Homo sapiens: one gene and its partner. The protein of the gene in region 2 purifies or fractionates together with the protein of the main gene of each other region. This does not show direct contact. Each region holds a gene or a part of one and is shown on either strand. Other genes may lie near its edges. The genes, in order: MIPEP and GAB3.

Region 1 (3,822 bases), on a different chromosome or scaffold from region 2:
TCAACAAAGCCTCAAATCCTATGAGGAAAAATTTAAAATATTCATGCCTCATATAAAGTGGGCCTTCACAGGAGAAAGATGATTGCTAGGTTTGAAGTTATTATCAAAGAAGTTAAATAAATCAGAACACGGACGTAAATTAATATCTGATGCAAATATAAGCCCCTACAACATGGGATGGGGGTTGGAGAGAAAAAAGGTCACTTATCCAATGGATTTGGGAATTAACCAAAACGGACACACAGCTATGAAGGTATATACAAAGTAAAGGACAATTTTCCTATAAATAGAATTTGTGGATATATGAAGGTGCATATATATTCAACCTTCTATCAAGTTCCAAAAAACTTTTTTAGAAAACTCTGCTGTTTTATGTTTGGATCCTTTATACAGTGTCTTAAATCAGAAGTGCAATTTGGATTTTTTTTGTGAAGCAGAAATAAGGCAGGGGACACACTCAGTCAGGGCAAAGTTGATGTAAACCTGAAACTGCTGTTGACTCAACTGCCCAACCGAAAGGTAAATGCCTGCAACTGCAGGCTGAGCAGGAGGAGCTCACCAGTTTTCGGACATCTTCGCTCCACACCTCTCCTTTTGCAGGCTGCTCTGCATATAATGAAATCCCCAACAGTCTGTTAAGCAAAATATTCAGGCCTTCCATGCATGCTCCAAGAGAGAAAAACGGGCAATATAGGCTGGGCTCAATATTATACCTAAGAGAAGGAAGAGAGGTTCAACAGCATCTTTGTTTATTTCAATTTCTGAAGGTAAATTCAATTAACTTTTCATTTAATACTTAAGATCACTGGAGCTAAAGAAGGATTCAAAACATAAAAGTGTATTTATATCATTTGAGGGGTTTTCAGACAGTTTTCTTCAGAATGACAGTCTGATTATTACTAGTGTTAGTTATAAGTCAGTAATTAAGGTAGATATATCATTCCCTAACCTTTGTCCCTTCCCTGTTATTTACTCTTTCACTAACCCAATTAAGCAGTCTCAACTGCTCACTGTATACATTCCTTATACATACTTACATGCAAAATATGATCAGTTTCAGTTATAATGGTAACTCTTACCTTATGAATTATATTCTAGAAACTTGTGACCTATATACATAAATATTAAATGAATAAAAATCCTGAGGCACATTAAGTGAATTTAAAGTTCTCATCCAGTAAAATATTCATTTATGAAAAAAATGCCTGCAATATAAATAATCAGATCTTATCTGTTTTATAGTTAGATATCTTAAATTAAAGACAACGTAACTAGTAAGGTGAATTATTCTTCACCCAAAAATAACTTTTTCTGTTCTATATATTCCAATATAAACCAAAGCAAATCCAAAATACGTGATTTGAATGTTTACATTTGAATCATTAAGTCAAGCCAAAATATATAGCCATAGCCAAAAATAATGGCTCTAGAATATTGTAGGTTCTCATTATATGTCTACTTTTTAGGATTACCAAAATACACATTTTTTTTTCAATTGGCTTTATTTGTGATTCTAGAACTGCACAACACTTCGTTCCATAAAATGAGTCCCCACAACAAATTTATATATAAAAATATAAAAACATAGTTACTAATAAATGAATGAGTTTAGTAAGTGAACATAAATTGCACAACAAATGAGACTTTGGCTATGGACATCCACAAATTTACACCTTAATTTCTGACTGATTTTTCTTTAAACAGAATCCTAGTGTTGAAAGAGACGTTCATGATCCAGTGCCCTCGCTCCCTGGTTCGTTCACTCAAGCATGCTGTCAGCAAACCTGCGGGGTGCTGGAAGAGAAGAATGAAGAGCCTTTGTGTCTAAGCAGCTGGCACTGAAAGAGGCAGAGAAGTGAACCAACTACACTGTGTCCTGGGCCTGGTGCAGTGGGCACACGGCTGGCGCTCAACAGACAGTGCTGAAGCATGAACGAATGAGCACTGCAAAATGGGAGGGCAAAGGAGAGCATGATGACTTTACTTGTGGAGTGCAGAGTAGCACCAGGGAAAGCTTCTCGGATAGGAATCAAGAAAGAATCGGCCGGGTGCTGTGGCTCACGCCTATAATCCCAGCACTTTGGGAGGCTGAGGTGGGTGGATCATGAGGTCAGGAGTTCAAGACCAGTTTGGCCAACATGGTGAAACCCCGTCTCTACTAAAAGTACAAAAATTAGCCGGGTGTGGTGGCGGGTGCCTGTAATCCCAGCTACTCGGGAGGCTGAGGCAGAGAATTGCTTGAACCCAGGAGGCGGAGGTTGAGTGAGCCACGATTGTGCCACTGCACTCCAGCCTGGGCGACAGAGCAAGACTCTCCATCTCAAAAAAAAAAAAAAAAAAAAAAGGAATCAGACTTTGCAAGGCAGGGCTGGGATGAGGAATGGAAAATGGGAATCATAATAGGAATTCTAGGCAGAAGCGACAGTATAACTAAAGTATGATGGCATAAAATAGCCTGGTAACTTCTAGAAAGGATGTGGTTAAAGATGAAGCAGTTACCAATGCAGGGATAAATGTAGAAAGAATGGGAGCGGAGTCTGGAAAAGGCAGGCAGGGGCCAGAAAACAGAGGGCCTGGTCCACTAAGCTGAGGAACTGGGACCATGCACCATAGGCCATGGCCTCTAAGCTTCCTCACCAATGCACACTAAAATAACTTTTGAGTATTCAACCTTCTATTAGTACACTCATAAAGTATATGCATGTGGTATTGTTTTATCACATTGCAAAAAGAAAAGCAGACATTTTTATAAGTTGAGATAAAGAAAAATAAATATACATAGAATTTCTAATATTTTATGACTACACTCTCAATGAATTGCTTACAGATGCCATTTGGGAGACAGCTTCTGTAGGCCATAGGGGAGCATCTGATGTTTTCTGGAATGCTGCACAGTGGACAGCATGGAGGGTGGAATGCAGGAGGCAGGGAGGGCTGACAGGAGGACAGACTTCCAGGCTTCAGAGGGTGAACTCTGACAGAGGGCAGTGGGGTCAGGGATGAATGTGTTTTTCCTTTGAGATGCAAACGTCTCAGGACTGTGTGAGTGATTGGATTTGGAGGGTGATGAGAAAGACAGAACAATCTAGAATAACACTCAGGTTTCTGGCTTGGACAAATAAGTGGATGGTAGAGTCACTGAATCAGCCGGCACAATGAACACAAAAAAGGAAGAGGGGAATCTGGGTGTGTTTGTGGGAGAAGAGAGGAGGGTGAGGTGCAATGATGGGAGGAGGATGGAGGGCTCACAGAAAATAAACTCCATTTTGGAGGAACCGACTGTGAAGTGCCCATGAGATACCAGACACTCAGGACCCAAAGCTAAGGAGAACAAGGAGACTTCACTGTACAGATATTAGAGCCATAGAGGGAGACAGGGCCATTAGGGAAGGGCGATGCGGGCAGAGAAGGTAAAGGGCAGACCCCTGAACTACCAGAGGGAGGGGTGGGAAGGAAGACACAGAACAGTTCAGAGGTACTGAAGAACTGAGAGAAAGGAGTGCATGGAAAGAGGGGAGAAAATAAACTATAAAAGGAAGTGGTCCAGGCTTGAGGTTTCCACTCCTGCACATGAGGAGGTTGAAAGTCACCACTCCATCCTAACAAGCAGGAAGCTGAACAAGCTGAAAATCAAGAATCTTCTTAGATTCAGCAGAGAATCAAGGCCACAGAGCAAACTGCTGCCCCCAAAACTGGAAAGAAAGGCAGGCAGCCATAGAGAATCACAGCTTACCAGAGCAGAAACCTCCCATAGAACCTACTACCAAGGCAAGAAAGTTTAAACTATAATTGGTTATAAAAAGCAATTCATTTTTTTGTTTC
Region 2 (3,822 bases):
AGGCTATGCCAAGAACCCATGTCATGACAAGGACAGCAGGAAGGAAACAAATCAGCCATTCTAATGATGAAACGCTTTGTATTACAGGACTAGTGCCCATCTTCAAGTCCGCTTTATTGGATGATTTTAAGGACGGGTCAGGATTGGAGAGTCTAGTAATGGGATTCACACCCACAGTTTGAAGGGCCAGAATTATACAATCATTGAAATTGATGCAGCAAAGGAATGTAGTACAAATTTAACATATGCTGAAGCTTTAAAAGAATCTTAGCAATAAAGAACTAGAAGGAAGCTTTCTTACTATTATGTATCTCAGTTCAAGAGCCAATATCATACATTAAAATCAGATGAAAATCACAAATGCTCACCACTGCCCCAGTATCTTCCAACATTGCTATTTAAGTTCTACACAACTGGCCAAGAAGGAAAATCATACACATTGGAGAGGAGGAGAGAAGATTGCCAGTGTCTGAAGGTGACAAATTGTCTTCCATAAAACCCCCAATGATGATTAAAACACTAATAGAATTCTCAGAGAATTAACTAGCTTGGCTAGTTACACTTCCTATGTAAGAGACCCTTGTCTAAGCGCTTTACTGTAACCCATTTAATCCCTAAAACTATACTATGGGAGGGGTAACTATTACTATCTCCATCTTATGTCTGATAAAATTGAGGTTCAGAGAGATTAAGTAATGTGCTCAAGGTCACATAGCTAAACAACTGTAGGAATGAATTTGAACTCAGGTTGGGATGGAAGGATCGGTAATGGATGTGAAGTTAAAAAATAAAGAGAGAGAGGAAGTGTAGCCAGCTCTCCAGAAACATCTGACTGTAAAGGGGGAAAGCTCTGGGGTCAAGGGATTTTTTAAAGATGGGAGACTCTTAAGCATTCACCCCCTAAGTCACAGTGTTTTTCAACCAGGGATGGTATAATTCCTCTCGGGAGCATCTGAAAATATGTGGGTTTTGCTTGTTATAAAGGCTGGAGATGGAGTGGGGGGTGGGGCATGGCAGGATTGGCCTAAAGCTATCAGTGCCCCTGTTTTGAAACACTGTAAAAACAAAAAGGAATTTTCCTTAATGGAATAGGAATCTTGGAAAGAGCCAAGCCTGGAAGTCAGATGAACAGGTAAAGCTCAGTCCATGCTCAGAAAAGAAAAGAGAATGATATTCCACAGAAACCAGTGCCAAGATTTGACAGGTCTCTTTTTGTGCCCTGAGAACAACTGAGAATGACCTAGGGCTCCTTGGCTTCCCACTCACCATTGACTTAGAATTTTTGATGTAGACAGTACCATCTTGGCTCAGTACAAAGAAAGGGTGCAGATCTCTGGCCTGGGGAAAGAGGTATTTACAATTGACCAAAGCCCTAGGGAGTCCCCTGGATCTGTAAACCTCCCTGCCCTCTCATGGAGCCAGGGGGAAGGAAATGTTTGAGTTCCTTGTCTTACATTTAGGTGCCCTTTGTTCATCGAAGGGCCAGATAGGCCAGCCTGCATGGATAGCGTATCCTTACTTTCTGCGGTAGGGAACTATGGCATTAGCCCCAGTTGGGAATTGAGCACAGAGAAGGATGACGGCTGACCGCAGGGAGATTTATAGCTCTGTGGTTTTTCTCTCCCATGCGGTAGCATGTGTGACAGCAGGAAGTGTGGGGTTCTGCCAGGAGGTACAGCGACCCCTGGGACAGGAAGTCTTTTGTATCTCTAGCTTCATTTATGTGTGATACTTTTTAAGCCCACCAGCTTTGACCAAGAGGCCAGGGAAAAAGGAAAAGACACTATTTGGAGTATTCTCAGCTCCCTCCCTGCTCAGAGAACATGAATCTGAGATGGCAGAGAATCCAAAGAAGCACTGACCTCCAATTATGCCTTAGAATAAAAAGCCCTTCCAGGACTGAGGCAAGGGGCAGCAAGCAGAAGGAAGGCAGTCACTCCATGTCAGGTTGGGGCAGGTGAACCCTGGTTTGCTCCTGCCTTTACAGACAGTATAAAGCTTTGAAAAGAGGTCTGGCCATGAGTCAAACAAGGAGACCATCTCAGGAGACAAACAACGTGGTGTGATTAAGTCCATGTTTTTAAGACAGGAAAAATAACAGCATGTTTGTATGCTCGTGGGGGTGACCCAAGAGGGAGAGAAAAATTGATTCAGTAAATTCCTGTTGCAAAAACGTGGCACTGGATGGGAGTAGAGCCACTAAACATAAGAGAAGGAGCTCAAGTTTTGCTGTGGGGTTTGAAAGTGGGAAACCTGGGCTTCTGGCATCAACTGAGGCAAACAGGAACATAAGGCCTAGTCCAGGGAAGGGGCTCAGGGGATGAGAGAATGCCATTTGTGCCTGCTGAGGAAAGCTTTCATGGGGAGGGAGCATGGGGTGCTCCAAACTTTCCAAAAGCCACTTTGGTGGGGGAAATGTAAAGAGGAACTTTGTTGCACTTCCCAAAAATGATTCTAAAAGAGGAAGTCAAACTAAGCACAGAAACAAGTTTCACATTAACCGCTCTTAGTGTTATGGAGACAATAGATTTCTTATCTTTTAATAACAATATTGGAAGAGAAGTAACACCAAGAGTTTATTTGAGTGCCTACTCTGCACTGTGCATCCTGCTAGACAATGAAGCTAGAAAAGGGGATTAGAGCTGGTCCCTAAAAGACCTCACTCTCTAGCTGGGATAGGGAGAAGGGTAGAATTATGATATGGGTAGATTTCAACTCAGCGTAGTGAGCGGTCTAGCAGAAGAATGAACCAGGAGTGGTGGGAGTGCAATGGGAAGAGTGACATGAAGAAGTTTGGGCTTTATCCATTCATTCAACAATTACCTGTTGATAGCCCACTAATATGCTGGACACTGTGCAGATACTGGGGAAGATGAAGTGAGCAAGCCACATGCCCTGCCACTCACAGTCTCATGGGCAACAAGGGAGTGAGCAGATGGATAAACAGACGATTGCAATCAGTGAGATAAGTGCTACGATAAGGCAAAACCAAGATGCTATGGGAACAAACAAAAGAGACATCTCTCTCAGATCAGTTGTCTGGGGAGGCTTCCAGGAAGAAGTGGTGACTAAGCTAAGGCTAAAGTGGGGCAGGAGGAAGCAGCGTGCACAAAGGCATTAAGGTGGAAAGGCTCAAAACTTTGCGTAAGTAGTTCAGCAGGGCTGGAAGGCAGGCATGAGGGTGGAAAGGAAAAAGAACAGTCACACAGTAACTTAAATAGGACGTAGCATAGTCTTGATGCTGAATCATGCAAAATCGCCAGTGTGTCATCCCTTAGGTTTTTAAATCTCTACATAAGAGTTTTGATTATGCAAAAACAGAAGTGAGGTGTTCTTGGAGCTCTTTGCTAAGTAGGTAAAACCAGAGGCCACATATAGTTCTGTTCCACCAGGCTTACAGGCTTCTGGAAAATGGAAGACATGTGACAAAGCCCCTGAAAGCAGTCAGTCTGCCAGCACTAAAGTGAAGCTTTTTACAGTGAAACAATGCCACAAGGAATGACGAGGGCCATGTCAAAAGGACTTAGGGGCTAACCTGAAGAGGCTACCACTGGCCATATATGAAAGAATTTTTGCTTTCATAAATAGTCATATGCTGCATGACATAATAGTAACAATGAACCAAATATACAATGGTGGTCCTATAAGATTTTTTTTCAATCCTCCGAGACATCTGAATCCCAAAAGATTTAATACCATATTTTTATTGTACCTTTTCTATGTTTAGATACACAAATACCTACCATTGTGTTACAATTGCCTACAGTATTCAATATAGTACCATACTGTACAGGTTTGTAGCCCAGAAGCAACAGGCTATAA

The links.
Region 1: the proteins of GAB3 (region 2) and MIPEP purify together in Homo sapiens (affinity purification with mass spectrometry; one large-scale study listed by BioGRID and IntAct). This does not show direct contact.

Annotation. Positions count from the first base shown.
Region 1 is NC_000013.11:23,840,776-23,844,597, forward strand, and holds part of MIPEP (mitochondrial intermediate peptidase), read right to left. Parts: intron 714-3,822; coding exon 560-713; intron 1-559. UniProt on the Homo sapiens protein: Cleaves proteins, imported into the mitochondrion, to their mature size.
Region 2 is NC_000023.11:154,716,383-154,720,204, forward strand, and holds part of GAB3 (GRB2-associated-binding protein 3), read right to left. Parts: intron 1-3,822.